Homo sapiens: one gene and its partners. The protein of the gene in region 7 purifies or fractionates together with the protein of the main gene of each other region. This does not show direct contact. Each region holds a gene or a part of one and is shown on either strand. Other genes may lie near its edges.

What was found.
Region 1: the proteins of ZBTB47 (region 7) and NOL8 purify together in Homo sapiens (affinity purification with mass spectrometry; one large-scale study listed by BioGRID and IntAct). This does not show direct contact.
Region 2: the proteins of ZBTB47 (region 7) and HP1BP3 purify together in Homo sapiens (affinity purification with mass spectrometry; one large-scale study listed by BioGRID and IntAct). This does not show direct contact.
Region 3: the proteins of ZBTB47 (region 7) and CENPC purify together in Homo sapiens (affinity purification with mass spectrometry; one large-scale study listed by BioGRID and IntAct). This does not show direct contact.
Region 4: the proteins of ZBTB47 (region 7) and DDX24 purify together in Homo sapiens (affinity purification with mass spectrometry; one large-scale study listed by BioGRID and IntAct). This does not show direct contact.
Region 5: the proteins of ZBTB47 (region 7) and MAK16 purify together in Homo sapiens (affinity purification with mass spectrometry; one large-scale study listed by BioGRID and IntAct). This does not show direct contact.
Region 6: the proteins of ZBTB47 (region 7) and DHX30 purify together in Homo sapiens (affinity purification with mass spectrometry; one large-scale study listed by BioGRID and IntAct). This does not show direct contact.

What each region holds. Positions count from the first base shown.
Region 1 is NC_000009.12:92,298,514-92,302,134, reverse strand, and holds part of NOL8 (nucleolar protein 8), read left to right. Parts: intron 1-312; coding exon 313-584; intron 585-1,324; exon of another isoform or gene 1,325-1,328; coding exon of another isoform or gene 1,329-1,378; exon of another isoform or gene 1,379-2,118; coding exon 2,119-2,245; intron 2,246-3,180; coding exon 3,181-3,251; intron 3,252-3,621. UniProt on the Homo sapiens protein: Plays an essential role in the survival of diffuse-type gastric cancer cells. Acts as a nucleolar anchoring protein for DDX47. May be involved in regulation of gene expression at the post-transcriptional level or in ribosome biogenesis in cancer cells.
Region 2 is NC_000001.11:20,742,308-20,745,807, forward strand, and holds part of HP1BP3 (heterochromatin protein 1-binding protein 3), read right to left. Parts: intron 3,350-3,500; coding exon 3,236-3,349; intron 2,785-3,235; coding exon 2,490-2,784; 3' UTR 1-2,489. UniProt on the Homo sapiens protein: Component of heterochromatin that maintains heterochromatin integrity during G1/S progression and regulates the duration of G1 phase to critically influence cell proliferative capacity.
Region 3 is NC_000004.12:67,517,393-67,522,267, reverse strand, and holds part of CENPC (centromere protein C), read left to right. Parts: intron 1-2,765; coding exon 2,766-3,051; intron 3,052-3,899; coding exon 3,900-4,112; intron 4,113-4,875. UniProt on the Homo sapiens protein: Component of the CENPA-NAC (nucleosome-associated) complex, a complex that plays a central role in assembly of kinetochore proteins, mitotic progression and chromosome segregation.
Region 4 is NC_000014.9:94,053,703-94,057,202, reverse strand, and holds part of DDX24 (ATP-dependent RNA helicase DDX24), read left to right. Parts: intron 1-2,018; coding exon 2,019-2,207; intron 2,208-3,500. UniProt on the Homo sapiens protein: ATP-dependent RNA helicase that plays a role in various aspects of RNA metabolism including pre-mRNA splicing and is thereby involved in different biological processes such as cell cycle regulation or innate immunity.
Region 5 is NC_000008.11:33,487,345-33,492,219, reverse strand, and holds part of MAK16 (protein MAK16 homolog), read right to left. Parts: intron 3,843-4,875; coding exon 3,793-3,842; intron 3,701-3,792; coding exon 3,591-3,700; intron 3,487-3,590; coding exon 3,422-3,486; intron 3,233-3,421; coding exon 3,081-3,232; intron 1,936-3,080; coding exon 1,881-1,935; intron 1-1,880.
Region 6 is NC_000003.12:47,805,524-47,810,398, reverse strand, and holds part of DHX30 (ATP-dependent RNA helicase DHX30), read right to left. Parts: intron 1-4,875.
Region 7 is NC_000003.12:42,656,664-42,661,538, forward strand, and holds part of ZBTB47 (zinc finger and BTB domain-containing protein 47), read left to right. Parts: intron 1-1,611; coding exon of another isoform or gene 1,612-1,692; coding exon 1,693-3,165; intron 3,166-4,821; coding exon 4,822-4,875. UniProt on the Homo sapiens protein: May be involved in transcriptional regulation.

The DNA of each region.
Region 1 (3,621 bases), on a different chromosome or scaffold from region 7:
CCTTACTTATACCTAGGTGTATAGTTTAGGCATAATTTCTGAAATGTAGTTCAGAGAATGATAGAATATGATTCATGCAGCTGTTTGAGATTTGTGTAAAAAAAGCTTATTGATCAAGATTTTGCTTCTATTAGTAGAGTTCTATATGTAGAGTTTTACTTATTTTATTTCTCTATTTATAAGTAGAGTTTTATATTCTGGTTGTTGATAGGATAGAATTAAAGTTGTCCAAGATTTTTTCTTTTCTTGATTTCTGGAAATTTCCCAAAACTTGTTTCTTTGTGATGCACATGTCTACATATGTCATTTCAGTAAAGCAAAACGAAAAAAGAAAAGGGAGGAAGCTGAGAAACTACCTGAGGTGTCTAAAGAAATGTATTATAATATTGCTATGGATCTGAAAGAAATATTCCAAACTACAAAATATACCAGTGAAAAGGAAGAGGGCACACCCTGGAATGAGGACTGTGGTAAAGAGAAACCTGAGGAAATCCAGGACCCTGCAGCTCTGACCAGTGACGCTGAGCAGCCCAGCGGGTTCACGTTCTCTTTTTTTGATTCAGACACTAAAGACATAAAGGAAGGTACTTTTCTTTTTTCCCATACTTTTTTATTTTATTCAGTTTGAACTTAATTGATTGAATCTGCATTAAGTGTAACAGATTTCATGTTAGCTGAAGAAAGGACTCTTTCTTCTACCTAGAAGATTTGAGATTTAGTGTCACAGGAGCATAAACACGATGTTCCTGAAGCTGTGAAAGAAACTATTTTTGCATTTAAGGAAGCAAATCTCTACTAGCTGCCATATGAAGGGAAGCCAGAGAATAATGTACAGCATCTTTTCTGTTAAGTAAAACGTCATGAAGAAGTATAGTAAATCACATAAAGAGCTTTGTATCTTAAATGAAGCTGAAGATGCTATGACTTATGGAAAACTAGTGCTATATATAAGATAAAAGAAGATATAGGTAACCTTGGTTTTACACAAATATGCCATGTCATCAATATGCCAGTTATTGCACAGTTTATCCTTGAAGATTTGCCAGAACCTAGAGAGAAGTATAAACACTAGTACATACAGTTTTGCATTTCATTTCAAGAGGCTTACCTCTAAAGGCCAACATGGGCCACAGGTTAAAAAACACCTGACCTGTTCCTCACCCAGGGTTCCAGCTTTCTGGAAGTTCCCACTGTAAAAGCAGGTAATACCTATACAGAAGAATACACACATACCTAACTACAATGATTCTACTTTAAAGATCAGCAGTTAAAATAGCATACATGTGTTTGGTAGATTAAAATAATTTTTTTTTTTTTTTTGGAGACAGAGTCTCTGTCACCCAGGCTGGAGTGCAGTGGTGCAATCTCGGTTCACTAGCAGATAATACCAACTCCGTGGTACTTTAAAAGGAAGTATAACAATCTAGTAGTTGTTCAAAAAGTATTGCAAATAAGACTTCATTTTCTTGTCTATATAAACTGTTGAGTAGAGTTGGCATGATGTAAATAGTAACGATAGTTTTTCTAACTTTGAGAGCAAAACGTGAGAAATTGACCTTGAAACGAGTCCTAAAGACATCAGCAACTTGAAAGATGTTTTTTAAGTACTTGGGAAATTTTGAAGACTTGTGAGGTGATTGTCCTGATCTTATAGCAGTAGTTTTTCCAGCAGTTCTAGCAAAAAGTTTTGGGTATTGAAAATGTAAAGATATATTCCTTTTCTCATTTATAAATAGACAAGAGGGAAACCTGATTTCCCTGTATCCTATTATATTTTAGGCTTCTCATGCAAGCACAGATGCCATGGTTATTTTAGGTGTCATTTTTAAAAATTATATAGCTCATTTATAAACCTTTATTTTTTAAACCTTTTTTATATTACTGCTGTCCTTATCAGATCATTCTAGCAATGCCAAAATTATGATAGTGGCTTCTGAAAATATTTGAAAAATCTAAAAAGATGATACTACCTATTTTTTTGATACTATTTTAAATTAATGATTAACATATTGGAACTTTAGATATGTCTACGTGGTAAAAGTAATCAAATGAATGTGTTCAGAAATACTTGGCTGTGGAGTTACAATCCCATCATCTTTTGTTGTCATAACGATATAGAGACCTACAGAGTTGAAACAGTGAAACCTGGAAAGATTGTCTGGCAGGAAGACCCTCGTTTACAAGACAGCAGTTCAGAAGAGGAAGATGTTACTGAAGAAACAGATCACAGAAACTCCAGTCCTGGGTAAACAATTTGTTTCTTTGCAGGCATAGTTCATAATTTGTAAAATCTGAATTAGACATACTTTAGAAATATTTTAGCTTCTCTTCACATGACAACTAAATTGTCTTAGCTTCTTTTTTTATTTTATTTTTTTTTTTTGAGACGGAGTGTTGCTCTGTCGCCCAGGCTGTAGTGCAATGGCATGATCTCAGCTCACTGCAACCTCCGCCTCCCAGATTCAAGCAATTCTCCTGTCCCAGCCTCCCAAGTAGCTGGGATTACAGGCACGTGCCAACCACACCTGGCTAATTTTTGTATTTTTAGTAGAGGCGAGGTTTCACCATGTTGGCCAGGCTGGTTTCGAACTCCTGACCTCAAGTAATCTGCCCACCTTGGCCTCCCAAAGTGCTAGGATTACAGGCGCCCTGCCACTGAGCCTGGACATCTCAGTTTCTTTAGAGTGTTCTCTAGCCTTTTTATAATGGAGAGTGTGTTTCCTTTTCCATGAGATTTGGATAGCACTAAGGGGAAGATAGTTTGTGCATAGAAAAGGGAAGGTGGCCTGACAGTGAAGTCACTGGTCTGGAAACAGGATGTTGCAGTTGACTGGGTGCCTACCCATGGGAGGCACTGGCAAATGGGGTAGCAATGGTGGGAGTGAGAGTATCAGCAACCAACACAGGAAAGATAGAGGTTCTACTTAAACAAGTCTTCATTATCAAAGCTTCAGATAGAAGAATGTTAGAGGGAGGGTTGTTTTAACTCAGGGCAAAATGCACAAAATACAAAGCAGATATATTTAAGAGTCTCGCTCACCTGGATTCTAGGGGGAAATGAAAAAAGATATATTTAAGAAATAGTGTATTTATGTTTTGAATGTAAATATTTCTTCTTAAATATTGAAATTAAACCAACCAATACCTATTTTTCTCTCTCCTTTGTCCCTTTCTTTTCAGAGAAGCATCATTACTTGAGAAAGAGACCACTAGATTTTTCTTTTTCTCTAAGAATGATGAACGACTTCAAGGTCAGTCCATTTTTTTCATCAAATTACATACATAGAACAGGTAATAATACAGCTACAGTAATTCACATCCAGGAATTTTGACCGTTGGTAATGTCATGTGGTTTAACCCCATTTGTTCACACTGATGAATGTTAACTTGTAAAGCTGTCAAGGTCTGAGAGCTCCCCACTCACCACTTTCTTTGCCCGCTCATTCTCATCAACAAAGGGTTGTTTTGTTCCAAGGGCTTCCTTAGATGTTAGACATATAAAACCCCTAAGTTTTAGTGCCATAAATTCCATGTGAAAACTCAGGCTGTTGGGGAGCTCATTTCTTAAAGCCTAGCATAAACAAAGTTACATAATAGTAAATGATATATATAAACAGTAAA
Region 2 (3,500 bases), on a different chromosome or scaffold from region 7:
CTAGAATTTGATGTCTAGGATTTATCTGTTATCTTTTGCAGTACTGTAATTTTTTCTAGTCCAAGGACTTATCTGAATATTGAACATTTATTGAACATGATTGTACTCTATGATCTTGGAAGCAGTCTTTAATAAAATACAAAATGATTTTTTAAACCTTTGATTCATTAAGTAATTAGCATTCAATGTATCTGGAAACATCGTTTACCCTCTATAAGAATTCCAAAACACATGAACTGGAGCTTGTATTTAAAAAGGAAAATGATGGTGTTCATTTCAAGGAGTAGAAAAGACTTAAAGTGAGGGCGACACTTAGCTACTTCTGAGGATATACTATACTCAAAACCTTTAAATATAAGCTACGGTTCAGCAGCTTTTAAAATTTCATGTTTATTCATATTTTTCAAAATATATGTACATTAAAAAAGGAAGATTTACAACAGGAAAGATTGCCTTACATGCAACACAAATTCCAATGAATTCATGATGGGATCACACATGATTATGATCTAATTCAAGCCAATCTTCTCAAGTCCATTTCCCAGCCATACTTTAGGCTACAGAAGGGATCCCAGGAGACAAAAGTGGAATGAATAAGAAACAAACATCTTTTGCCTCTGGCAGTACTCAAGGGGCCAGAAGATGTACTTCAAAAACTTTAAGACAATTAAAATGTCAAGTGCCACAGGGAAGAGAAATGATAACCAGAAATTTGTATTTCTAGCTAGTACTATTTAACACAACTTCACAATACTAAAACAAATACAAATAAGAAAGGGTTAGGTAGTTGGGCTTCATTTACTTTTTTCCTTTTCTTTTTTTTTTTAATATCTCAAAAAGGAAGCCACTTGCTTGATATCAAAAGTGCTGTGGAAAGAAAGGAGGGGAAAAAAACCCACAAATAAATGTAGAATCTAGTTTATTTTACCAAACTGTATATTTTTCCACTTAACATTTCTACATTAGCAATGATGTAACTCTCCAACATTTCCTTATAAAAAAGGCAAACAAGAAGTGACAACTCATGCTCCAAATATTAAAAAATATATTTAAACATATGATCAAGAAGATTTGGGCCGTGAGTGGTAGCTCACATCTGTAACCCCAGGATTTTGGGAGGCTGAGGTGAGTGGATCACGAGGTCAGGAGATCGAGACCATCCTGGCTAACATGGTGAAACCCCAACTCTACTAAAAATACAAAAAATTAGCTGGGCGTGGTCGTGTGCGCCTGTAGGACCCAACTCAGGAGGCTGAGGTGGGAGAATCGCTTGAACCTGGGAGGCGGAGTTTGCAGTGAGCCAAGATCACACCACTGCACTCCACACTGGGCGACAGAGCGAGACTCTGTCTCAAAAATAATAATAATAATAAAAAATAAAAAAGATTTGTTTTGATTTTTGGTAACACAGGTGACACCAGAAATCACAAATCAATATATTTCTACACTTCCCCTTCAGTCAAAAACCAAGTGGGATAGGCCAGGCACAGTGGCTCACTCCTGTAATCCCAGCACTTTGGGAGGCCGAGGCAGGCGGATCACCTGAGGTCAGGAGTTCGAGACCAGCCTGACCAACACGGCGAAACCCCATCTCTACTAAAAATACAAAAAAATTGCCAGGCGTGGTGGTACACACCTGTAATCCCAGCTACTCGGGAGGCTGAAGCAGGAGAATTGCTTGAACCCAGGAGGTGGAGGTTGCAGTGAGCTGAGATTGCACCACTGCACTCCGGGGCACCTGAGCAAGACTCCGTCTCAAAACAACGACGACAACAACAACAACAACAAAAAACAAGTGATATAGAGAACTTGTGCTTGCTGTTAAGGGAATGCAATACTTTGGGCCAGTGAAAAATACCTAGAAATTGATCAATATGAAATGTAGCCCAAAGGAGTCATATATCTTCAAAATCTAATGAGATCACCCTGTTTTTGGCTTATTCCCAAAGCTGTCTCTGTGTTTACAGTTGGAGAGAAAAGGTTAGTGGAGTGGCTTTTATAAATAAGATTAATTATTACAGCTATAACTGAAGTCTCCAGGCAGGAGGCTTTACAACTCAGTCAGTGCTATATTGTGCCTCCATTTTACTTCCAGGACCTGACTGGCATACCGTTCTTGATGCTTTCTACAAATATAAAAATCTCTGCAACTGTTTAGATAAAATTGGAAGAAAAAAAAAAGGCAAAGCTGACCATAAAAACAACAGGGGGTTGGGGGAGGCAGAGAAAAAGGACAAGTATACATTACATAGTTTAGGAAAGTCCAGGATTATTGCAGAAATTAAAATGAACAAGGAAAAGGGCAGGCACCAATAAAAGCACCTAAAGCTAGCAAATGCCTAAACTGGTTTATTTAGAGTCCCTCCCCACAATGTTCATAGGGGAGGAAAATAATGTAATTTGAAAAGCATCAAAACTAAACAAATGCACACTGACCTTAGAAAATAAGATTTTGAATTTCATCATGATACCCTTTTTTCCTATAAAATTTACTTTTTCACTCTGAAAGACTTCTTCATGGTGGATTTGCCCTTGCCCGGCAATTTTACTTCCTTTCTTGCACTGGTTGCAGGCTTCTTTGAGGAGCCACCACTAGGTTTCTTGATGACTGTGGATGAGGGTCTGGTCTTCTTGGCAGGCGTTTTGGCCTTAGGAGGTGCTTTCTTAGGCAAGGGCCTAGCTTTCCCCCGCTGGGCAGCTGAGACTTTAGGTGCAGGTTTGGACCCTCTCTGCTTCACAGATGCGGCCTTCCCTGGGGACTTGGCTGGGGTTTTCTTCTGCAACCTGTGAGAACCAAAGAGCAAAGGCCGTCATTTAGTACTTAAGAGATTCGTTTTGTTGGGACAACCAGATGCTTTCTAAAGAGAAACGGCATATGAAGTGGTCACTTACGTTAAGAATAGGAATGTGACAATTTTTTACTAGAGATTTTACTAAAATTGTATAAAAATTCAACCAATTCATGAAGTCTAGACACAATTTCATGACGTTGTTCCTAGGGAAATATGTAATTATTTTTCTTTGAATAACTAAACTATGGATACACACAGGCTTGCCCTAAAAGTCTGGAGCCCTTGATTTTCAAAGGAGAAGATCAATCCAAATTTATATAAAGAACTTGAGAAGGATCCTGAGTTTCTGAAATGCTTTTTAGCTTTAGCCCCTCCTATAGCACTATTTTTCAGCTCTGAGGTATTTAGTGTCCTCCCCACAAGGGGTTTTCACATGTCCACACCTTCTCTTAGGTGGCGGCTCTTCATCCTCAGAGTCTTCTTCTGATGACTCATCTTCATCTTCATCCTCATCTCTAGAATCATCTGGCTCTTTCTTCGGAAACAGAACTCCTGGGCTATACGGGGAAAAATTAGATTAAAACACAAGTCCCATATAAAACAAGAAAAATAATGTGAACCTAGATGCTCTTACCTGGACATATCCCACTTCTTCCCACCCTTCCCAAAAATGTCAAGCTAGGTTACACGTATCAGGTTACAATTTAC
Region 3 (4,875 bases), on a different chromosome or scaffold from region 7:
GCAGACATGGTAACTGAAACAACGAATTCCCAACTTAAATACTACTGTTAGTTATTTCTGTTGTCAGGTATTTTAATATTTTTTAACTTTACAAGACTTTTTGTTTTAGTTTGTTTATATACACACGTCACTTCCTTTGCTCTTTTTTAAAGAAGTGTATTTTAAAATATTGTATAATATAAACATAAAATTGTCCACTTTATTTCTGAGTATACAGTTCAGTAGCATTAAGTACATTCACATTGTTGTGAGGCTATCACCACCATGAATCCATAGAACTTCTTTCATTTTTCACAACTGAAACACTGTACCCATTAAACAGTATCTCTTTTTCCATTAGCCCTGGCAACCACCATTCTACTTTTTTCTGTCCATGAATTTCAGACAGAAAATTTATCTGTGACTGGCTTATTTCACTAAGCATAATGTCTTCAAGGTTCATCCATGTTGTAGTATGTGTCAGAATTTCATTCTAAGACTGGGTAATATTTCATTGTATGTGTATACCACTTTTTATCTATTAATCTGTTGATGGGCACTTGGGTTGTTTTCGCTTTTTGGCTATTGTGAGTAATGCTGCTATGAATATTAGTGTGAAAGTATCTCTTTGAGTTCCTGCTTTCAGTTTTAAGTTTTTAAGGATCCACTGTGCACTTTTCATAGTGACTGTCATTCTACATTCACACTAGCAGTGCATGCACAAAGGTTCCATTTTTTTCTACATCAACAGTTGTTATCTTTTGTTTTTATAAATAATAGTCATCCTAATGGGTGTGATGTAGTATCTCATTGTAGTTTTGATTTGTTTTACATCACTGTTATTAGGAAAATTTAAAATAATATTTAAAAATCACTACTTACTGATAATGGCTAATATCCAAAAAACTTTTTTTTAAAAAATGCTACTTTGAGAGTTTCTTTTTCATTTGTTACAAGAGGATTTGTAATTGATTATTAAAGCATTTTATGATGTTTGCTTTAAAATTTATTGTTAAATAATTTTAAAATCTGATTCATCTCATTTATGTCTATTGATCATTATTTCTTACTTTTTTTTTTTTTTGGTTTGTTTTGGTTTTGGTATGACGAGTTGTTTTGATTGTATTCCTGAGATTTGGTTACTTATGTTAGGGGATTCTTAGACTACTTAAATCTTTTGTTACAGCACATAGTTGCCCTATTTTGGTTTAATGTATAGGTTCTTTCCTGTGTTATTTATTTATTTATTTATTTATTTATTTATTTGTTTATTTTTTGAGACAGAGTCTTGCTCTGTCGCTCAGGCTGGAGGGCAGTGGTGTGATCTTAGCTCAGTGCAACCGCCGCCTCCTGGGTTCAAGTGATTCTCATGCTTCAGCCTCCCGAGTAGCTGGGATTACAGGCATGTGCCACTACGCCTGGCTAATTTTTGTATTTTTAGTAGAGATGGGGTTTCGCCATGTTGGCCAGGCTGGTCTTGAACTCCTGGCCTCCAGTGATCCACCCGTTTTGGCCTCCCAAAGTGCTGGGATTGCAGGCATGAACCACTGCGCCCAGCCCCTCTTTCCTAGTTTTATGAGTTTTATTTTCAATGATAGTTAAGTGTTCAGAGTAATAGTGGTATTTTGTTCTACTTCATTTTCTGATGCTGTTAGGATTCTAGCTCAGTTCCTGTTGGTGCTGTCTGGGGTGGGTAGAAGATGCCTTTTGATGTCCATGTTCACTTGTGTGGGGTTCTGGTTAGAAGCTGCTGGTCCTGGGTTTCCTTATATCATTGGGTGGAGGACAGGGGGTTGCTGGCCTCTCTTACGCTGTTCTTGCCTCAGATTAGACTGTCTGCTGGTGCCCTGGTTGTAAAGTAGGGACTGGGATGGCCTGGGGTGTCAATACTATCAGTGGATCAAAATGTTGCCTTGGGCTGTGAAGGTCAGGGGTTTCACTACTCTACAGCTTCATGTGGGTCATACCGCCTGCCATCTATGATTGTAGAAGCGGGACTGGCTTGGTATGAGCTCCTTTACTGCTACAGTCCCATAGCACAGCCCAGGGCTTTGTTGCTTTGCCAATGCAGGTAGTAAGGAGTGCTCCATGGCCGAGAGTGCTGAATGGGGCTTGAGTTTCCTCATTAGGTCTTCGGTGGGTTTACCTTGTTCAGAGAATGCATTTCCACCCAGCCTCCACCCTGTCTTTCACCTATTGGTGGTTACAGGTTATACTAGCAACCAGTCCAGGGGTATATGGGAGACAGACAGAAAACCTAAGGCTTGTCTGTTTCTGGTCTTGAGCTTCCTAGCTAGTCTACCTTTTTTTCTTCCAGCTTTCAGAGTCCTGTTGTTGATTGATGGATAATTTCCAGGGAAGTTAGTTGTATTTAGAGGGAGAAGCAGGGAAATGCCATCTCGTTCTGAAGGGTGAGGGTTAAGAGAATATGGATACATTCTTTTAAATTTTCTCATTATAGATAAATGTTCATATACATATATACTGTGTATGTATATATACACACATGCTTATGTTGTATCTCTCTATATCTGTTATATCTATATTCCATGTGTGTATGTGTAAATATATCATCTAGCTGCCCTAGGTCACCAATTTTTAGCCCAAAGATAGAAGAATCTTAAGTACTTACTTATTTTAATCATAGATCTTTGATTCTAATCTTAATGACTTTGAGTTTTCTGAAAACTATTTCTGATTAAATTATTGCAGAATTTTTAAAAAGCCTGCTTGATTCTCTTATTATTCTTTTAATTGACAAATATCTTTATATAATTTTCTTCTAGTTCAGGCCCATGAAGTTCATCAGAAAATTCTGGCAACTGATGTTAGTTCCAAAAATACACCTGACTCGAAAAAAATATCAAGTAGAAACATAAATGATCATCACAGTGAAGCTGATGAAGAATTTTACTTATCCGTTGGCTCACCTTCTGTTCTTTTGGATGCAAAAACATCTGTATCACAAAATGTTATTCCATCTAGTGCCCAAAAGAGAGAGACTTACACTTTTGAAAATTCAGTAAATATGCTGCCTTCAAGTACAGAGGTTTCAGTTAAAACCAAAAAAAGGTAACATTTTATTTAAATAATGTTAACGCACTTTAAAAATTTTACTTTTTGTATTAAAAAATGGTAATTCAATCTTGTTATATTATTTTACACTAAGGAAGGAGGAATATTAACATGTTATGAGAAAGTATACATTTAGCATATATTCAGTTTGTAATAATTAAGGAAGGGCTTAAAGTGTACTTCAGAGAAGTTTAGAGGTTAACTTTTCTATAGTCTGGAATAATGTGTTTTCTCTCTGATAATATTTGATTGCTTCCTAAGAGAAACAATTTGTATTTTCTCAATATTTTTTGTAATTGCAAGTGTAGATGTGTATCAGGTCACTTCAAGGGTAGCAGAGCATAAGTATTATTGAGGATGCTATGCTTTGTGGACAGCTGGTTTCTCTTTCTTGACCTTACCTTTGGCCTTTAGGAAACAAAGTGGATTCAAGGTCTTTTGCATTTGGAGATCTCTGTAATGAGTGTAATTTCTATTTAGAGTATTGTATGATTACTGGAGCCAAGGAGTTAAGTATATTCTAAGACTTTGATATTCAAAGTTTGGTCTGTCACAGTGCTCTAAGATTGCCCTGAGAACCATTGCCTAGCTATACATTTCATTGATGTATACTTTAGCCATTATTTTCTCTTTCATGTTTTTCTATTGATAAATACAAAAGTTAATTTTCCTGAGCAGTTTATCTTATGTATTTGGAATGCACAAATCAGCATTTATGTCTTAAATAAATGCCTAGTACAGAATTTTAAATTGGTCTGTATTGTCTCTGTAAAGGAGTTCAGGAAGACTTATAACTCAAGAAACGTTACGGGAGCATTCAGCTTACCCTCCTTTTAACCTTTTAGGTTAAACTTTGATGATAAAGTTATGTTAAAGAAAATAGAAATAGATAATAAAGTATCAGATGAAGAGGATAAAACATCGGAAGGACAAGAAAGAAAACCATCAGGATCATCTCAGAATAGAATACGAGATTCAGAATATGAAATTCAACGACAAGCTAAAAAAAGTTTTTCAACATTGTTTTTAGAAACAGTAAAACGAAAAAGTGAATCCAGGTGAGTTATTAAGAAACTGCCCTTTGAGACATTTTTCTTTTATATTCTATGAACCATATATAAGGATTCCTAATGCTATTTAACTTAGAAATAAGTAATTTAATTAACAAAAATTTTAATTGAAATTTTTTCTGACCTGTAAGGAGAGATGGTTTTTTACCAGTCAGTGAGTCACTCCCAAAGCCATTTTTTAATAGATACTAAATTAGACTTGAAAGAAAACAAGTTTATTCAGTTTTCATTGCCTTCTGGTTTGTCTGTGTGATATCAAAGACTGAAGTCAATGCAGTATTTATGTATGTATGTATGTATTTATTTTGAGACAGGGTCTCGCTCTGTCTTCCAGGCTGGAGTGCAGTGACGCAATCTCGGCTCATTGCAACCTCTCCCTCCTGGGTTCAAGAGATTCTCCTGCTCAGCCTCCCGAGTAGCTGGGATCACAGGCACCTGCCACCACGCCTGTCTAATATTTGTATTTTTAGTAGAGATGGGATATCCCCATGTTGGTCAGGCTGGTCTCGAACTCCTGACCTCAGGTGATCCATCTGCCTCGGCCTCCCAAAGTGCTGGGATTACAAGCTTGAGCCACCGCACCCGGCCGACAATGCAGTATTTAGAAATCGTTATGTTAGGCTGCCCTTATGTCACTATCATAGGTATCAGAGTGCTAGTGAATATACTAGGAAGTTTTTATTGCTGGGCGCGGTGGCTCATGTCTGTAATGCTAGCACTTTGATAGGCCGAGGCGGGTGGATCACTTGAG
Region 4 (3,500 bases), on a different chromosome or scaffold from region 7:
GCCAGGCTTTGAATCCCCAGTCTGCTGCTTCATAGTTGGTTAGCTTTAGGCAAGTTATTTAGTACCTCTGGTTTCAGTGTCATTGTTTGTAAACTGGAAGTAACAACTAGCTACCCCATAGGGTTATCCTGAGAATTAAATTGAGCTGATGCTGATGAAGCCGGTAGCACAGTGTAAGTACTCAATAAATGGTAGCTGGTATGGCATTATCATTTTTCCTCTTTAATTCCTCTTTGTGCTTTTAAAAATCTTTTAGGCTGCTGTTTCAGAGAAACAACAAACTCACAGTGCTTTTTCCCATTCTCTCACTTCACAACAACAATCAACATAGAAGACTTCTGTAACCAAATGTGTGGGCGTTTTTCACCACATATCAAGCAGCAGCCACCAGCTGGGTGTCCTCTAATTTAGTTTCATTTTCTGATGCTGTCTTCCTGGAGATAGCCTCAGATCCCACAAGATGTCCCTCCTCCCCGCAACCAGTCGATAAGTCAGGGCCTCTGGAACTTCTGACCAACCAGCTTCAAGTTGGGGTTCTCATGACCCCCCGCTTTGGGTTCAATTAATTTGCTACAGCAGCTCTCAGAACTAAAAGAAACACATTTACCAGTTTATTATAGAGGATATTACAAAGAATATAGATGGGGAGATGTATAGGCTGAGGTACAGGGGAAGGAGCATGGAGTTGCCATGCCCCTCCTGGGTACACCACCCTCCAGGAATGTCCACATATTCAGCTTATTCAAAAGTTCTCCAAACTCTGTCCTTTAGGAATATTTATGGAGACTTCATTGGGTAAGATGATTAATTAAGCCATTGGCCTTTAGGAAGTAGTGCTGCAAGTCCCAACCTTCTAATCCTGCCTTGGCCTTTCTGGTGACCAGCCCCCATCCTGAAACTACCTGGGGGGCTATCAGCCATCAGTCAATAGTTTGTCATTAGTATACAAAAAGACATTACTTTTGAGATTCCTTTGCCAGGAAACAGGATGAAGAGCAAATACATATTTCACTGTATCACAGGTGCTAATTTTGGTTTAGCAAATCTCTATAGTCTTCCCTTTTTTGGGGAAGGAGCTGGGTCAACCTTTGTGGAGTCAAGATGAATCAAATACAGTCCCAGCCCCTAAGAAGTATTGGATCCAGCAGAGGAGGTGAGATGACCACAGCCATAATTTAAGGCAGAAGGTATTAGAAAATTACAAAATACAATGGAAGAGAGAGGTAACTTCTAGTTTGGGAGGTTGGAAAGTACTTTCTAAAAACATGCCTGGCATTTAAGGGTGAAGAGGATTTGGACATATAGAGGCATTAAAGGAAGGAGCAAAGAAATGGGCAGTGTTCAGGGGCACTTGGCTCACAGTGAGAAGAGGGTATGTGTTGGGAAAGGAATAGTTGCTGAGGCTGGAGGGGTAAGTTGAGGGCAAGTCACTAAAGGCGCTGAGTGTCAGGTTGAAGAGTTGGGCCTTTATCCTGTAAGTAAAGAAAGGCAAATCTCATTTCTAGAACTCTTATGAACAGTTCATAGTGGCTACTTAAAGTACTGTATTGAAAAGGATACCTAGATGTTATCTGGGCCCAGTGGAGAAGACTGTTGTGCTTGATTAATGGTGTGTGCCAGGGGCTCAGTGGGTGTGTTAGCAACCATGCCACATTATCTATGGATAAAATATATATAGGAGTAGAGACCGTATAACCCAGGGATTAACATGGTCTGTGGAGCTGGGCTGCTTAAATCCTGGATAAGAAGTGACTGCTGTGGTCTGGCTGCATGGTCCTGAGGACCTGAACCAGGGTCAGGGGCATGGGAGGGAAGAGCCTACACAGTGAATGGGCTAAACCTGGGAACATTTTGAATGTGGGACTAAGAGAGGAGGGCTAGATTGCTCTACAATGCTGCAGAAGTTTCTACCTGCCTGGCTGGGAGGTAGGAGGGTCTGGTTTGGGGATGTGGCCCTGAGGAGAGGACCAGTGTTTGGCAGTGGCCATGTATTGATCTCCCAGTTCTTCCTGTGGCAGGTCCCACGTACCTCGGAGATTTATGTCCACCGAAGTGGTCGAACTGCTCGAGCTACCAATGAAGGCCTCAGTCTGATGCTCATTGGGCCTGAGGATGTGATCAACTTTAAGAAGATTTACAAAACGCTCAAGAAAGATGAGGATATCCCACTGTTCCCCGTGCAGACAAAATACATGGATGTGGTCAAGGTAGAAAGCAGTTAAAACCCCAGTGCTAATGAAGGGATTGTGCTGCTCCCTTGCAGAGCACCTTGCTGTGGGACTCTGGCAGCATAACCCTTGAAAACTAAGGAATGGTTCTGCCAACAGCTGAACAAGGAGACTTGTAGAAAGGATTGAGAGCAACATACCTGGGAAAAGGGAGAAAAGGGGAGTGACTGAAGGTGGGAGGCATTTTCTCCCTGAACCATTTCTTCCTTCTCTGGCCCTGAAGTCCCCCCTCCTCACCAGACAGTGCAGTGGTCATGGCTGTCTGGATATCCTGTCAGAGGGTTGTAGACAGTGTGGTTAGTGTTTCCTGCTGAGGCAGATGCTACAGGTTTGGCACATCCCTGGAGCAGGTGCCAGTAAATTCTGTCTTTTGGGTTTTAACTCAGCAGGCATTCCCCAGGTAGGTGCCGCTTACCATGGGACACTGTATTAGTGACCAAAGTGGGGTGGGTTCTCCTTCCCAGAGGTTTGCCAGCTGTGAATAAAGTTCAGGTACAGTGGAGCAGTATGGAATTACTGGGCATATGGTTACATTGGGAGGAGAAGAGGTTCTATCCCAGCTTCCTGCTGGCAAAGATGTGGAAGGGTACAGAGGAGGTGGAATTCCAGGAATTGAGGGAGCAAAACCATGGCACAGTTCAAGGAATGTTGGCTTCTCTGGCTCAAAAGGAATATTAGCTGTGTGGGGAAATAGGGTGGAGATAAGGATGGAAAAGTGGAAATCATAGAGAATTCCCATTAGTAAGGAGGATTAGGAGCCACCCAGGCTTCCCTTGGTTTCTTTCCCCACATCACAAGATCCTTCTCATTTTGCCACTGCACTGTAACCCCAAAACCCTCTAGAGGGAGAGTTGAAATGTTTTATCTTAGCTCAGCTGTGGAAGCAAGCTGTGGCATCTGCGTAAAGACTTCACTTTGGTTACCTATAGGTTGGCAGTCAAACCAGTAAGGGTTTTCAAAGGATGTGGCTGTTCAGGTTGATTGTTGGGAAAGCTGGCAGTTGTGTTTAGATGTGTACACACAGACGGGTAATGGTTGCCCACTGGACTTTTATCAGGAAGCAATAAATGCATTTCAACAGGAACTGAACTGCATCTCACCACTGATCTCAAGAGCTTTTTATTTATTTATTTTTAATTTTTAATTTTTAATTTTTTTTTGAGACGGAGCTTTGCTCATGTTGCCCAGACTGGAGTGCAGTGGCACAATCTTGGCTCACCACAACCTTCGCCTCCCGGGTTCAAGTGATTCTCCTGCCTCAGCCTCCCAAGT
Region 5 (4,875 bases), on a different chromosome or scaffold from region 7:
GCCAACATGGCTAAACCCCATCTCTACTAAAAATACAAAACAAACAGCCAGGCATGGTGGTGCACACCTGGCATCCCAGCTACTTGGGAGGCTGAGGCACAAGAATCGCTTGAACCTGGGAGGCAGAGGTTGCAGTGAGCTGGGATTGCCCCATAGCACTCCAGCCTGGGTGACAGAATGAGACTCCATCTCAAAAACAAAACAAAACAAAATCCAGACTATATAAGGAGCTCAAACAACTCTATAGGAAAAAATTCTAATTATTGGATTAAAAAGTGAATAAAAGGGCCAGACATGGTGGCTCACACCTGTAATCCCAGCACTTTGGGAGGCTGAAGTGGTTGGATTGCTTGAGCCCAGGAGTTCAAGACCAGCATGGGCAACATAGTGAAGCCTCGTCTCTACAAAATATATAAAAATTAGCCAGGCATGGTGGCATGCACCTGTAGTCCCAGCTACTTGGGAGGCTGAGGCATGAGAATCACTTGAATCCAGGAAGCAGAGGTTGCAGTGAGCCAAGATCGCACCACTGCACTCCAGCCTGGACAATAGAGTGAGACCTTGTCTCAAAAAAAAAAAAAAAAAAAAAAAAGCAGGGGGCAGGGATTGGGGAGGCAAAAGATTTGAGTAGACATTTTTCAAAAGAAGACATACAAATGGCAAACAGGCATATGAAAAGGTGTTCAACATCATTGATCATCAGAGAAATGCAAATCAAAACAATGAAATATCTCACCCCAGTTAAAATGGCTTTTATCTTTTAAAAGACAGGCAATAACAAATGCTAGAGAGGATGTGGAGAAAGGGAACCCTTGTGCACTGGTGGTGGGAATGTAAATTAGTACAACCACTATGGAGAACAGTTTGGAGCTTCCTCAAAAAACTAAAACTAGAGCTACCATACCATCTAGCAGTCCCACTTCTGGGTACAGACCCAAAAGGAAATTAGTGTATCAAAGGGATACCCACACTCCATGTGTGTTACAGCTCTGTTCACGACAGCCAAAATTTGGAAGCAACCTAAGTGTCCATCAATAGATGAATGGATAAAGAAAATATGGTACTTATACACAATAGAGTACTATCCAGCCATTAAAAAGAATGAGATTCTGTCATTTGTAACAACATGGATGGAACCGGAGGTCATTATGTTAAGTGAAAGAAGCCAGGCACAGAAAGGCAAACACTGCACATTTTCACTTATTTGTGGGATCAAAAAATCAAAACAATTGAACTCATGGATATACAGAGTAGAAGGATGGTTACCAGAGGCTGGGAAGGGTAATGGGGGTGGGGATGATTAATGGGTACCCCCGCTAAAAAAAATAGGAAGAATGAAATAAGACCTAGTATTTGCTAGCAGCACAACAGCGTGACTATAGTCAATTATTTAATTGTACATTTTAAAATAACTGTAAGGATAATTGAACTGTTTGTAACACAAAGGATAAATGCTTGAGGGGACGGATACCCAATTTTCCATGATGTTATTACTCACTGCATGCCTGTATTGTATTTCACTGCAGAAATTCCATTTGATTAGAATGCTCAAAATCTACTAAAGGTTTTATGTAGTATGTAAAATATGCAACATCAAAATTCTGAAGTCTGAAATATTTGACCACAAGAAATTCAGAAAAAGGAGTTGTGGATTCTTTCTGTTCTCCATTACATATATCCCCAAAGCACACATACTTTAACCTGTGCTGAAAATCATAATCTTAAAATATGAAAAATTAAATGTCTTAGGCAACTAATAGTTATCTATTAGTGAACCATTATCCAAGGCCTCAACAGTTTACATAATGATGGTGACTGAATCTATAAGAGACCCCCAGAAAGAAAATGTAGAAGGTATGAATATCTCAACAATAAGTTACCTCTCTTCTTTTCTCCCTACGCTCCACCTTCTTACTCAAAGGAACAAGTTTCCTCCTAAGGGAAAGAAAATATATCAGAAAATCCACTGTCATGTGCTGTGTTCCTTTTTAAGGATGAGAAGAAAAAAGGATTGGAATTGGTGACTAAAATGGAAGTCTACTCATGTGCAGGGCAGGATGGCTGAGCTTCAGGCATTCACGGAGGCTAGCGATTCAAACAAGCCTTGGAGCCCAAGGTTGGTGCTGTAGGGCTCAGCTCAATACAGCAAGATACACTAAACGCTTCTAGAAATTTAATACTATAAAAAGTCATATATTTTTACATGTATTTTAATCCGGCCATTTTTGTTCAGGCATTCTGGGATTCTCAGGGCATTCACCATGCTAAAATTAAGACTTCAGTGAACTAAGAAAAAAGAATTTTCTGTCGAAGTCTGACATCATCTTTAGCATTCTATGTAGATCACAGTCAAAAAGCATTAGGGCCTAACAGTCCTAGAGAAGGTATTCTGTTAATTCTGGGGATTTCATATCACTTTTAAAAATTAGTTTTCAGTGAATCCAGAGTAAAGTTCTTACATTCCTGTATAGTCACATGTCTTAGATCATTTTCAAATCTCTAAAGTTAAGATTCCCTCGGGGGTCATAGAGGAAATTTTCTGAAGGCTGGGCATGGTGGCTCATGCCTGTAATCCCAGCACTTTGGGAGGCTAAGGCGGATCGCTTGAGGTCAGGAATTCTAGACCAGCCTGGCCAACATGGTGAAACCCCATCTCTACTAAAAATACAAAAAAAATTAACCAGGCATGGTGGTCCATGCCTGTAATCCTAGCTGCTCAGGAGGCTGAGGTGGGAGGATTGCTTCAACCGGGGAGATGGAGGTTGCAGTGAGCTGAGGTCGCGCCACTGCAAATTCCAGCCTGGGCGACAGAGTGAGACTCCGTCTTAACAAAAAAGAAAATAAAATTTTCTGAAAGATTTTCAGACAAGGAGGGTGATAATCAAGTTGTATTCTACTGTTTTAAAAGTCCTGCCATATCAAAGGGCACACCTTTAGTCAAAGCTAAAGTTTCTCTTTAGTACATCATAACAGACTCCACAAAGTTGAATAGAAAGCCCCGAAGTTTCACAATTTCTCAACTTCAAAACAAGCTCCATAAAAAGAGAGATTTAAAAATAATGAATGATCCAAATACTTACTGTCGCTTTAGTGTAAGTTTTCTAATTCGAATTAGGTATTGGGTGATCTTGGTGAATCTCTGCTTACATTTGTGTCGAATGAAACGGGGCCAGTAAATCAGATTTTCATCTATTTGCTCCAGTGCTTTCTCATAGTTTTTACTAAGCCGGACCTACCAAACAGAAACAGGAAGTTTGAAGGGCAAGTGTAAATGATTCATTAGGTTTTCACTGTCAGTGACACCCATGGCCTAATGAGGATGGCCTCAAAAGTTAATGGTCATGGAATTGGGCATCATGGTCAAGCATGTGGCTTTGATGCTCTTGATCAGCGGTCACTGTAGTTTTGTTGTAAGGCTTACCCGTTCCCAGAGACGCCGAGGAAAAGCCGCTCGTTCTATAACCTTCATATACAAGTAGCACTGTCCTGAAGATAAAGTAAAATAGCTTTAGTGTTATTTACAGAAACTAAAGAACATCCCTGTAAAAGCTGTGGAGCAGTTCTTCTAGAAGTTAAAACTGGGGAGTTACCTTTCTCTTCTTTAATAGTGGCATACTGACTATTTGCCAGGGGACAGGATGACCGATTACACAGTCCAGTCAGGCTATATTCATTTCGGCAGAAGCTCTGAGTCTTGGTTCTAGAATGGGAGAAAAGAAACAAAGATTATAAAATGGGTTGCCAAAGAGGCAACTGAAGGAATCTTTGACCAAGTTGTAAATTGAGACTCACCTTATTTTGAAGGAACAAAATTGCTTGTTTCCTAGTGTATCCCAGATAACCTGCAAGACAAAGTAAAAGCCCATTTCAAATCCTCTGCCCCAAGAGATACTATATTAATTCAAGAAGGCAATGCCCAAGGACAGGAATGAGAGGAAGAAATGTTTTGTAAAATAGCCTGACTTGTTTACTTTTTAAAATACAAACAGCAAGGCCGGGCACGGTGGCTCACGCCTGTAATCCCAGCACTTTGGGAGGCTGAGTTGGGCGGATCACCTGAGGTGAGGAGTTTGAGACCAGCCTGATTAACATGGAGAAACCCTGTTTATATTAAAAATACAAAATTAGCTGGGCATGGTGGCGCATGCCTGTAATCCTAGCTACTCGGGAGGCTGGGGCAGGAGAATCGCTTGAACCCAGGAGAGGGAGGTTGCGGTGAGCCGAGATTGTGCCATTGCGCTCCAGCCTGGACAACAAGAGTGAAACTCCGTCTCAAAACAAAACAAAACAAAACAAAAAAGCCCAGCAGATTCTTATAGAAAAGCTAAATACAGATGAGCAATAATCATAACTCCATTACCCAGAGATAAAATTTCATTACTATTCTGTAAATATTTTTCCAGACTTTTTTTGACATACTCTGTGAAATCACATTTTATATACTTCGTAACTTTCCCTTTTTACTTATGTTCATTATCCATTATTAAAGGCTCTCATGGGCCGGGTGTAGTGGCTCACACCTGTAATCCCAGCACTTTGAGTGCCAAGGCAGGCGGATCACTTGAGGTTGGGAGTTTGAGGCCAGCCTGGCCAACATGGTGAAACCCCATCTCTACTAATAGAAAAATTAGCCAGGTGTGGTGGCAGGTGCCTGTAATCCCAGCTACTTGAGAGGCTGAGGCAGGAGAATCGCTTGAACCCAGGAGGCAGAAGTTGCGGTAAGCCGAGATCACGCCACTGCACTCCAGCCTGGGCGACAGAGTGAGAATCCATCTCCAAAAAAAAAAAAAAGGCTTCATGGTATTAGATTTTTAGATATACATACCATAATTTTATCTCATTGAGGGCAAAGAAAACTATCTACTGCTATCCTCC
Region 6 (4,875 bases), 5.1 Mb from region 7:
TGCATTTCATCATGAGAGACATGTAGTTCTATCTAGTTCATCATAATACTTACAGGTTTCCTTCCCAGTTCATCATAATACTTGCAGGTTTCCTTCCTAGTTATCATAATACTTGCAGGTTTCCTTGGGACTTCCAGGAAGAAACGAAATTCTACATGGACCCCTTCTGTCATGTGGCATCAGGAAACAGGACTGATGACTGCCTTATGGGCAAACTGCCTTACTGGGCTTTCATAAAACCTAGTCAAGACCCTAAAAATGAGATTTGACTGACAGGATCAAAGAATAACTGTACAGTGATTCAGAATAAAAAGCTTTTCATAGCAGTCTCTATGAAATAACAAATATTAAGTTAAAGCACAACTATTAGCCAAAAGTTTTGGTGCATTTTGCTTATTAGTATATTTAACTGAGGACTATACTTAGAGATGACAAGAAAAAAAAGCAACACATCTGGTTTAACAATTTTGTTTTAAAAAATACTCAAACTCAGATTTATAGATGTTTTTATAATCCAGTACTCCTTGATTAGTGCAGTAACCTTAAATGGACTTTGTTTAAAAACATCTACACAGTGTTTAGCCAATCAGAATCATGTCCAACATTGATTGGAGTCTACTGGGGCCAACACTCCGGCTCCTGACTCCTGTTCCCTCTCATTCTCAAATTGTGGGGAGGTGGGGAGTGGAGGGCTGACCTGGGGCGGAATCTTTCAGGTCCATAGCAGGTCTGCCCTGATGGCCTCCACTCCCCAAGGGATGCTGGAAATTTCAGCCCATAGGATATGGTATATCACAGAGAAAACTTCAATACAATATCAACAATGATAACATTTACTTTAAGAAGTTACATTCCGGCCAGGCGCGGTGGCTCACGCCTGTAATCCCAGCACTTTGGGAGGCCGAGGTGGGCGGATCACGAGGTCAGGAGATCGAGACCATCCTTGCTAACACGGTGAAACCCCGTCTCTACTAAAAAAATACAAAAAAATGAGCCAGGCATGGTTGTGCGGGCCTGTAGTCCCAGCTACTCAGGAGGCTGAGGCAGGAGAATGGCGTGAACCCAGGAGGCAGAGCTTGCAGTGAGCCAAGATTGTGCCACTGCACTCCAGCCTGGGCGACAGAGTGAGACTCCGTCTCAAAAAAAAAAAAAAAAAAAAAAAAAGAAGTTACATTCCATAGACACCTTCTATCCAAATGAAAATAAAAAGTGTGTAATTTGACATTCTAATTTAAAAGAAAACCAGAATATTATAAAATCTAAAACATTTTAAGTGAATATTACTTAAAAAACAATACTCCCTGACCAACATGACCCCGTCTCTACTAAAAAAATACAAAAAATTAGCCAGGCACGGTGGCAGGCGCCTGTAATCTCAGCTACTCGGGAGGCTGGGGCAGGAGAATCGCTTGAATCCGGGAAGCAGAGGTTGCAGTGAGCCGAGATCGCACCATTGCACTCCAGCCTGGGCAACAAGAGTGAGACTCTGTCTCAAAAAAAACAAAAACAAAAAACAAAACTCGGCTGGTTGCAGTGGCTCATGCCTGTAATCCCAGCACTTTGGGAGGCTGAGGTGGGCGGATCACCCTGAGGTCAGAAGTTCGAGACCAGCCTGGCCAACATGAGGAAACCTCGCCCCCAGTAAAAATACAAAAATTAGCCAGCTGTGGTGGCGCATGCCTGTAATCCCAGCTACTCAGGGGACTGAGGCAGGAGAATCGCTTGAACCCGAGAAGCGGAGGTTGCAGTGAGCCAAGATCACACCTCTGCACTCCAGCCTGGGCAACAGAGCGAGACTCCATCTCAAAAAAATAAAAATAAAAAATAAATTTAAGAAAAAAAAAAAAGAAACAATACTCTATTGCTACGAAATGGTAAACTGGCTAGGCACAGTGGTTCACACCTGTAATCCCAGCGCTTTGGGAGGCTGAGATGAGAGGAGCACTTGAGACCAGGAGTTCAAGACCAGCCTGGGCAACATAGTGAGACCGCATCTCTAAAAAAAATTTTCAGAATTAGCCAGGTGTGGTGGTACATGCTTGCAGTCTTAGCTACTCAGGAGGCTGAGGCAGGAGGATCACTTCGCCCAGGATTTTGAGGTTTACAGTGAGCTGTGATCACGCCACTGCACTCCAGTCTGGGTGACAAAGCAAGACCCTGTCTCTCTTAAAAAAAAAAAACAAAAAGTAAGGCGGGTGCAGTGGCTCATGCCTGTAATCCCAGCATTTTGGGAGGCCGAGGCAAGCAGATCACCTGAGGTCGGGAGTTTGAGACCAGCCTGACCAACATGCAGAAACCCCGTCTCTACTAAAAATACAAAATTAGCCGGACGTGGTGGTGCATGCCTGTAATCCCAACTACGTGGGAGGCTGAGGCAGGAGAATCACTTGAACCCAGGAGGTGGACGTTCCAGTGAGATGAGATTGCGCCACTGCACTGCAGGCTGGGCAACAAGAGCGAAACTCTGTCTCAAAAAAATTTAAAAAAAAAAAGCAAAATTTAATGGCTAGGTGGGGTGGCTCATGCCTGTAGTCCCAGCACTTTGGGACGCCCAGGTGAAGGATCGCTTGAGGCCAGGAGTTCAAGACCAGCCTAGGCAACACAGTGAGACCCTGCCTCTAAAAAAAAAATTTGTAAGTTAATTTGCTTGCAAATAGACTCTTGATTTTGCTTTTTTTTTTTTTTTTTTTTTTTTGAGACAGAGTCTCGCTCTGTCACCAGGTTGGAGGGCAATGGCGTAATATCAGCTTACTGCAACCTCCACCTCCCGGGTTCAAGCTATTCTCCTGTCTCAGCCTTCCAAGTAGCTGGGACTACAGGCACACGCCACCATGCACGGCTAAATTTTTTTGGATTTTTAGTAGAGATGGGCTTTCATCATGTTGGCCAGGATGGTCTCGATCTCTTGGCCTCATGATCTGCCTGCCTCGGCCTCCCAAAGTGCTGGGATTACAGGCATGAGCCACCGTGCCCGGCCAGTTTTGCTTTTTAAAAGTCCCTAAACCTCTAGCCCAATATGTCAATTTAGGCTCATGTACCATTCTTTTTCCTGTACTAATCTAAAAAAACGATACTATGAGAATCAAGACAGGATCTTTTAGAGACAGAATTTACAGAGCTCTAGAACATTTCATAGAGATCCAAAAGAAAGCGGTCTTCCTTGTAATGCAGTCAGTAATGGTGTTTTGTTTTGAGACAGAGTGTTGCTCTTGTTGCCCAGGCTGGAGTGCAATGGCATGATCTCTGCTCACTACAACCTCCACCTCCCGGATTCAAATGATTCTCCTGTCTCAGTCTCCCTAGTAGCTGGGATTACAGGCACCCGCCACCACGCCTGGCTAATTTTTGTATTTTTGGTAGAGACAGTGTTTCACCATGTTGGCCAGGCTGGACTCGAACTCCTGACCTTGTGATCCGCCCGCCTCAGCCTCCCAAAGTGCTGGGATTACAGGCATCAGCCACCACGACCGGCCATAATGCAGTAATGTTTAAAAATCTTTGTAGTGGGCCAGGCTTGGTGGCTCACGCCTGTAATCCCATCACTTTGGGAGGCTGAGGCAGGCAGATTGCCTGAGGTCAGGAGTTCGAGCCCATTCTGGCCAAGATGGTGAAATCCTGTCTCTACTAAAAATACAAAAAAAATTGGCCAGGCACGCCTGAGCGCAGTGGCTCACTCCTGTAATCCCAGCACTTTGGGAGGCCGAAGCAGGTGGATCACAAAGTCAGGAGTTCGAGACCAGCACGGCCAACATGGTAAAACCCCATCTTCACTAAAAATACAAAAAATTAGCCAGGCGTGGTGGTGCACGCCTGTAGTCCCAGCTACTCAGGAGGCTGAGACAGAAGAATCGCTTGAACCCGGGAGGCGGAGGTTGCAGTGAGCCAAGATTGCACCACTGTACTCCAGCCTGGGTGACAGAGTGAGACTCCATCTCAGAAAAAAAAAAGAAAAAAATTGGCCAGGCACGGTGGCTCACACCTGTAATCCCAGCACTTTCGGAGGCAGAGGCAGGCAGATCACAAGGTCAGGAGTTTGAGGTTAGCCTGACCAAAATGGTGAAACCCCATCTCTACTAAAAATACAAAAATAAGCCAGGCGTGGTGGTGCGCACCTGTAATCCCAGCTACTCAGGAGGCTGAGGCAGGAGAATCGCTTGAACCCAGGAGGCAGAGGTTGCAGTGAGCCAAGATCCCACCACTGCACTCCAACCTGGGCAACAGAGTGAGACTCCCATCTAAAAAAAAAAAAAAAAATACAAAAAAATTAGCCGGGCTTGGTGGCATGAGGCTGAGGCAGGGGAATTGCTTGAACTAAGGAGGTGGAGGTTGCAGTGAGCCAAGATTGCACCACTGCACTCCAGCCTGGGCGACAGGGCAAGACTGTCTCAAAAACAAAAAACCTTGTAGCTCAATGTGTCTCTTAAGTAATTTACAGATAAGTAAAATGCTATTATATCAAGATTTCCTGCATAATGAAATACAATTTAACTCCAGGTAGAGTCACTTGGGGATGGTTCCAGGACAGAGACTCCACAATGACTAAAAATGATACCCTTCTGGCTGGGCACAGTGGCTCATGCCTGTAATCCCAGCACTTTGGGAGGCTGAGGCAGGCTGATCACCTGACGTCAGGGGTTTGAGACCAGCCTGGCCAACATGGTGAAACCCAGTCTCTACTAAAAATACAAAACAATCAGCTGGGCATGGTGGCAGGCGCCTGTAATCTCAGCTACTTGGGAGGCTGAGACAGGAGAATTGCTTGAACCTGGGAGGCAGAGGTTGCAGCAAGCCAAGATCGCGCCACTGCACTCCAGCCTGGGGGACAAAGCGAGACTCTGTCTCAAAAATAAAACAAAATAAAATAAATGATATCCT
Region 7 (4,875 bases):
AGGGGGCAGGGTCCAGGGCAGGCCTGGAGACAGGTGGCCCCTGGTGGCTCAGGGAGGCTCCTGCTGAGGCCCACGGTAGGTTTCTCATTCAGGTGACTGAGAAGTGGAGCTCAACCACCACCACCCCTGCCCAATCCCAGCCTACCCACTGCTCTCCTGGCGATGGAAGGCCTGGCATGGGGAAGGGGGGCGGTAGGCTGTGGATGGATGGGGCCAGGATTCATCCCAGGGTCCCCAGGGAGGCACTGACAGCTATGGAGCTGATGGTTTTGTGGCCATCAAAATATTGTGGCAAGGTACCTCCCGAATGCAGGAGGCTCAGACCTGGTTGGGCAGGCCCTGAGGAGAGCCAGAACTTGGAACCAGTGGTGCTGGTCCAGCTGGGCTGGTGGTTGGTGGATATTAACAACATCTGCACATCACTGTGTGATGGTTCTCGTGCAGGGACTGGGCAGGCTGCCTGTCTGTGCTGCCCACCTTTTGGGGAGGCTGCTGTGGTAGAGCCGGGGTGACTGAGTTGGCTTCTATTCCAGGCAATTCACAGGTGCTGGATGTGGCCCACAGGCCTGATAGTCTGACCCATCAGACATTGAGGGCCTCCGCTAGGGCTCTGGAAGCCCCAGATGGTGTGGCCTCTAAGGCAGGGCTTTCCCAGAGCCTGTGGACATGGACCGTACCTGACCTGGGGTCTGGGGGTCTACCGGGAAAAGGATCTGGGGCAGGCCTTGGGGGCCTCCTGCCTGCAAGCATGGTAGGCAGGTTCCACAGCTGTGTCCTTCCACCCCTGCAGAGCCCCTGAGTGAGAGAGAGCTGCTGGGGGCTAGGCCTGAGGCTGCAGGCAGGGGTTGGGGGCAGCCTGGCCCAAGCCCTGGCTGTGATGAGGAGACCTCACCAGGCAGTGCAGCAGGACCAGAGTGGGGAGAAGGTATAGGCCCTGAGCCTGGATTTCTTCACAGGTTTCAACTTCTGCAGCAGCCACATGGCTGTTGCGATGAGGGGTTCCCTCAGGTGCTACCCCTTGGATTCTGTAGCCAGAGACTGGGCAGTGAGCAGTGAGCCCGGCTTCTGTTCTTGAGGTGTTTGGGGCTGGGCAAGCTTGCTTTTATTGGTATGTGTGAGTGAATATGTGGAGAGAATCCACGGGGCTGAGGAAATGCTGAAGGAATGCCTGTGGCCCTCCTGGGGTGACCACCTGGTCCCGGTGTGCCTGCGATGGTCCTGGTTCTAGCACTGAAAGCCCTGCACCCCAGAAAATGCCCAGGTCCCTGGCAAACCTGGATGGTTGGTCACTGTGGTCTCTCTTTCATCCCCTTTCCTTCCCTTTCCCTTCCTGGGATGACTTTTCCCATTTCCCAGGAGATGACCCAGAGGCCCAGAAAGTGACAGGACCTGATCTTCAGCCTCAGAGGGTCACGAGTGGAGCCTGAGCTCTGAGGCAGCTCACTCAGGCTTGAATCCCTTCCTTGCTAGTTTCGGCTCTGTTGCTGTAAAGTGGAGCCACGAGTGATGGGCTGCCTCCTGGATGGCTGGCAATGCTGGGAGTGGTGCTGGGGGAAGGGCGGGCAGGGGCCCACTGGCCTTGACCCACTCCTGTGCCCTCTGTCCCCGCAGTTGCTGGTTGAGAAGACAACTGACTCCCCGGCGGCTGAGTTCTCGCTGGTGGAGGACGTGGCGCTGCACTTTGCCTGCTTGATGGGCCGCCTGAACGAGCAGCGCCTCTTCCAGCCTGACCTCTGCGACGTGGACTTGGTGCTGGTGCCCCAGCGCAGCGTCTTTCCGGCACACAAGGGTGTGCTAGCCGCCTACAGCCAGTTCTTCCACTCACTCTTCACCCAGAACAAGCAGCTGCAGCGTGTGGAGCTGTCCCTGGAGGCACTGGCACCTGGTGGCCTGCAGCAGATCCTCAACTTCATCTATACGTCCAAGCTGCTGGTCAACGCGGCCAACGTCCACGAGGTGCTCAGCGCCGCCTCATTGCTGCAGATGGCTGACATCGCTGCGTCCTGCCAAGAGCTGCTGGACGCCCGCTCTCTAGGCCCACCAGGTCCGGGCACTGTGGCCCTGGCCCAGCCGGCTGCCAGCTGCACTCCAGCTGCGCCGCCCTACTACTGTGACATCAAGCAGGAGGCCGACACCCCAGGCCTGCCCAAGATCTATGCCCGCGAGGGCCCTGACCCTTACTCGGTGCGTGTTGAGGACGGGGCAGGGACTGCTGGTGGCACAGTGCCTGCCACCATTGGGCCAGCCCAGCCCTTCTTTAAGGAGGAGAAGGAGGGTGGTGTCGAGGAGGCCGGTGGGCCCCCAGCCAGCTTGTGCAAGCTGGAGGGTGGAGAAGAGTTGGAGGAAGAGCTTGGGGGTTCTGGCACCTACAGCCGCAGGGAGCAATCCCAGATCATCGTGGAGGTGAACCTCAACAACCAGACACTGCACGTGTCCACGGGGCCAGAGGGGAAGCCAGGTGCCGGGCCAAGCCCAGCCACCGTGGTTCTGGGCCGGGAGGACGGGCTGCAGAGACACTCGGACGAGGAGGAGGAGGACGACGAGGAGGAGGAGGAGGAAGAAGAGGAAGAGGAAGGTGGTGGCAGTGGACGGGAGGAGGAGGAGGAGGAAGAGGGTGGCAGTCAGGGAGAAGAGGAAGAAGAGGAGGAGGACGGGCACAGTGAGCAGGAAGAGGAAGAGGAGGAGGAAGAGGAGGAAGGGCCTAGTGAGCAGGATCAAGAGAGCTCTGAGGAGGAGGAGGGGGAGGAGGGGGAGGCTGGGGGCAAGCAGGGGCCACGGGGAAGCCGAAGCAGCCGGGCAGACCCCCCTCCCCACAGTCACATGGCCACACGGTCCCGGGAGAACGCCCGGCGCCGGGGTACCCCTGAACCTGAAGAAGCTGGGCGGCGGGGTGGGAAGAGGCCAAAGCCACCCCCTGGAGTGGCCTCTGCATCGGCCCGAGGGCCGCCAGCCACTGATGGGCTGGGGGCCAAGGTGAAGCTGGAGGAGAAGCAGCACCATCCATGCCAGAAGTGCCCACGAGTTTTCAACAACCGCTGGTACCTGGAGAAACACATGAATGTGACCCACAGCCGCATGCAGATCTGCGACCAGTGCGGCAAGCGCTTCCTGCTGGAGAGCGAGCTGCTGCTGCACAGGCAGACAGACTGCGAGCGCAACATCCAGGTGGGCCTCACGTGGCTGGGGGCAGGGCAGAGGCTGTCCAGGTGGGGCTAGGCCATAACTGGGCTCTGGGCACCTAGTGTCTTGCTGACTGCATTACCTAGGTGGTCTGCGGAGACCAGACTTAGCCCCCAGACAGGCTGGCCCAGGCCCAGTTCTCAGGGTGGTTAGAGCTCAGGGGTAACATCAAGCCGAGCTTCCTGGGAGAGGTGGATAGAGTTGGGCGCATGAAGAGATGTGCAGAGGATTGGAACAAACAGTACCCTTGGCCAGAGGGACAAAGGGGACACATGGACTTGGGAGGATGAGAGTGGAGAGTTGTCTGAGCAGACAAGGCCAGAAGACAGGCCACTCTGGGTGGGATGAGTCAGACGGGGTTTTAACAAACACGGGGGCTGTAGGAAGGCCAGCAGGGCCACTGTGTATAGTTTCACAGGTTGTGCACTGCAGCAAGTGAGCACACGATGGGAGGAGGGGTTTGCCCAGAGGGATGCCATCCTCCACTTCCCACAAAAGTGCTGTATGGAGGAGGGGGCAGCCCAGCAGGAGGCAGCCCCCACTTTCAGCTCTTTGGGGATGCCAGCTCCCATGGGCCTGGGAAAAAGGGATTGGGTGAGAAATTTGGGAAGAGCAGAGGCTGCTGGGGTAAGCAGGGGAGCTGAGCTGGCTGCTGGGCCTTGAGCCAGCCTGAGTCTGTTTGTGCCAGCCTCACTTCTCAGGGTGGGGTGGCACAGGGCCAGCCAGGCTCCCACGGGTGGTTTTCACCTCTTCTGGCCCAGGAGAAGGGGGAAAGGTAGCAGGTAGGTGGGTGCTAATTGCCTGCGCTAATTGCTAATTGCAGTGCCCTGTGGAGAAAGTGTTACCCGGGGGTCACCTGCTATCCTGCCCCACCCTTGTGTACCTGTGCCCACTTGCCCGCCTGCTGGGCTGCCCTTTGATGCTCTAACTGCTGCGCACCTGAGTCTCCCTCCTGAAGGAAAAAGAAGCTTCTGCCCCATCCAACCTGAGTACCCTGACCAATTTCTGCCCAAGCCTTGGCCTAGCCTCCATCCCTGTGGGGTGTCCTGCATAGATGGGCAGGACAAGGGTCCAGGAGAACAAATGGGGGGATATGGTCCCCAAGATCCCCCACCACTCTCTGTGCCTGATGGGACCTTGAGCCTCCTGCTGTCCTCCTCAGCCAACGCCTCTGGGACTCATCCTCTTGGCGATATTCATGGTGTCATGGCACAGGTCCCAGCAGGAGGAGGCAGCAGTGATAATGGCTCACTCTGTGGGACCTGTTATCTCTGCGTGTAGCCTCCATACCAGAGGGCGCCCTTCAGCTAGTTGTCTGCCTTACCTCTATAGACAGACAAAGGGTGATGCCTTTGGAAGCCCTTGTTGAAATGAGCCCAGAGTGGGGAATTTCCTGGAAGAGGTGACCCCTGACCCTAGTTAACTCAAGGATGAAGGAGGACACCAGGCTGTGTGTTTGGGGGTGTTTAAGGAGTTTTCATCCCCAACCTTAGAAACATCAGAGCTGGCTGGCTGTTGGCATCAAGGGCTCTCCAGCATATTTCAAGTGGGAAAACTGAGGCCAGACGGGGGCAGTAGCTTGCCCAAGTCCAAGACCCTGGGGACTCAGGACCCAGGGCCTCAAGTCCTCTTATTCTGCAGTGTGTGACATGTGGCAAAGCTTTCAAGAAGCTTTGGTCCCTCCATGAGCATAAC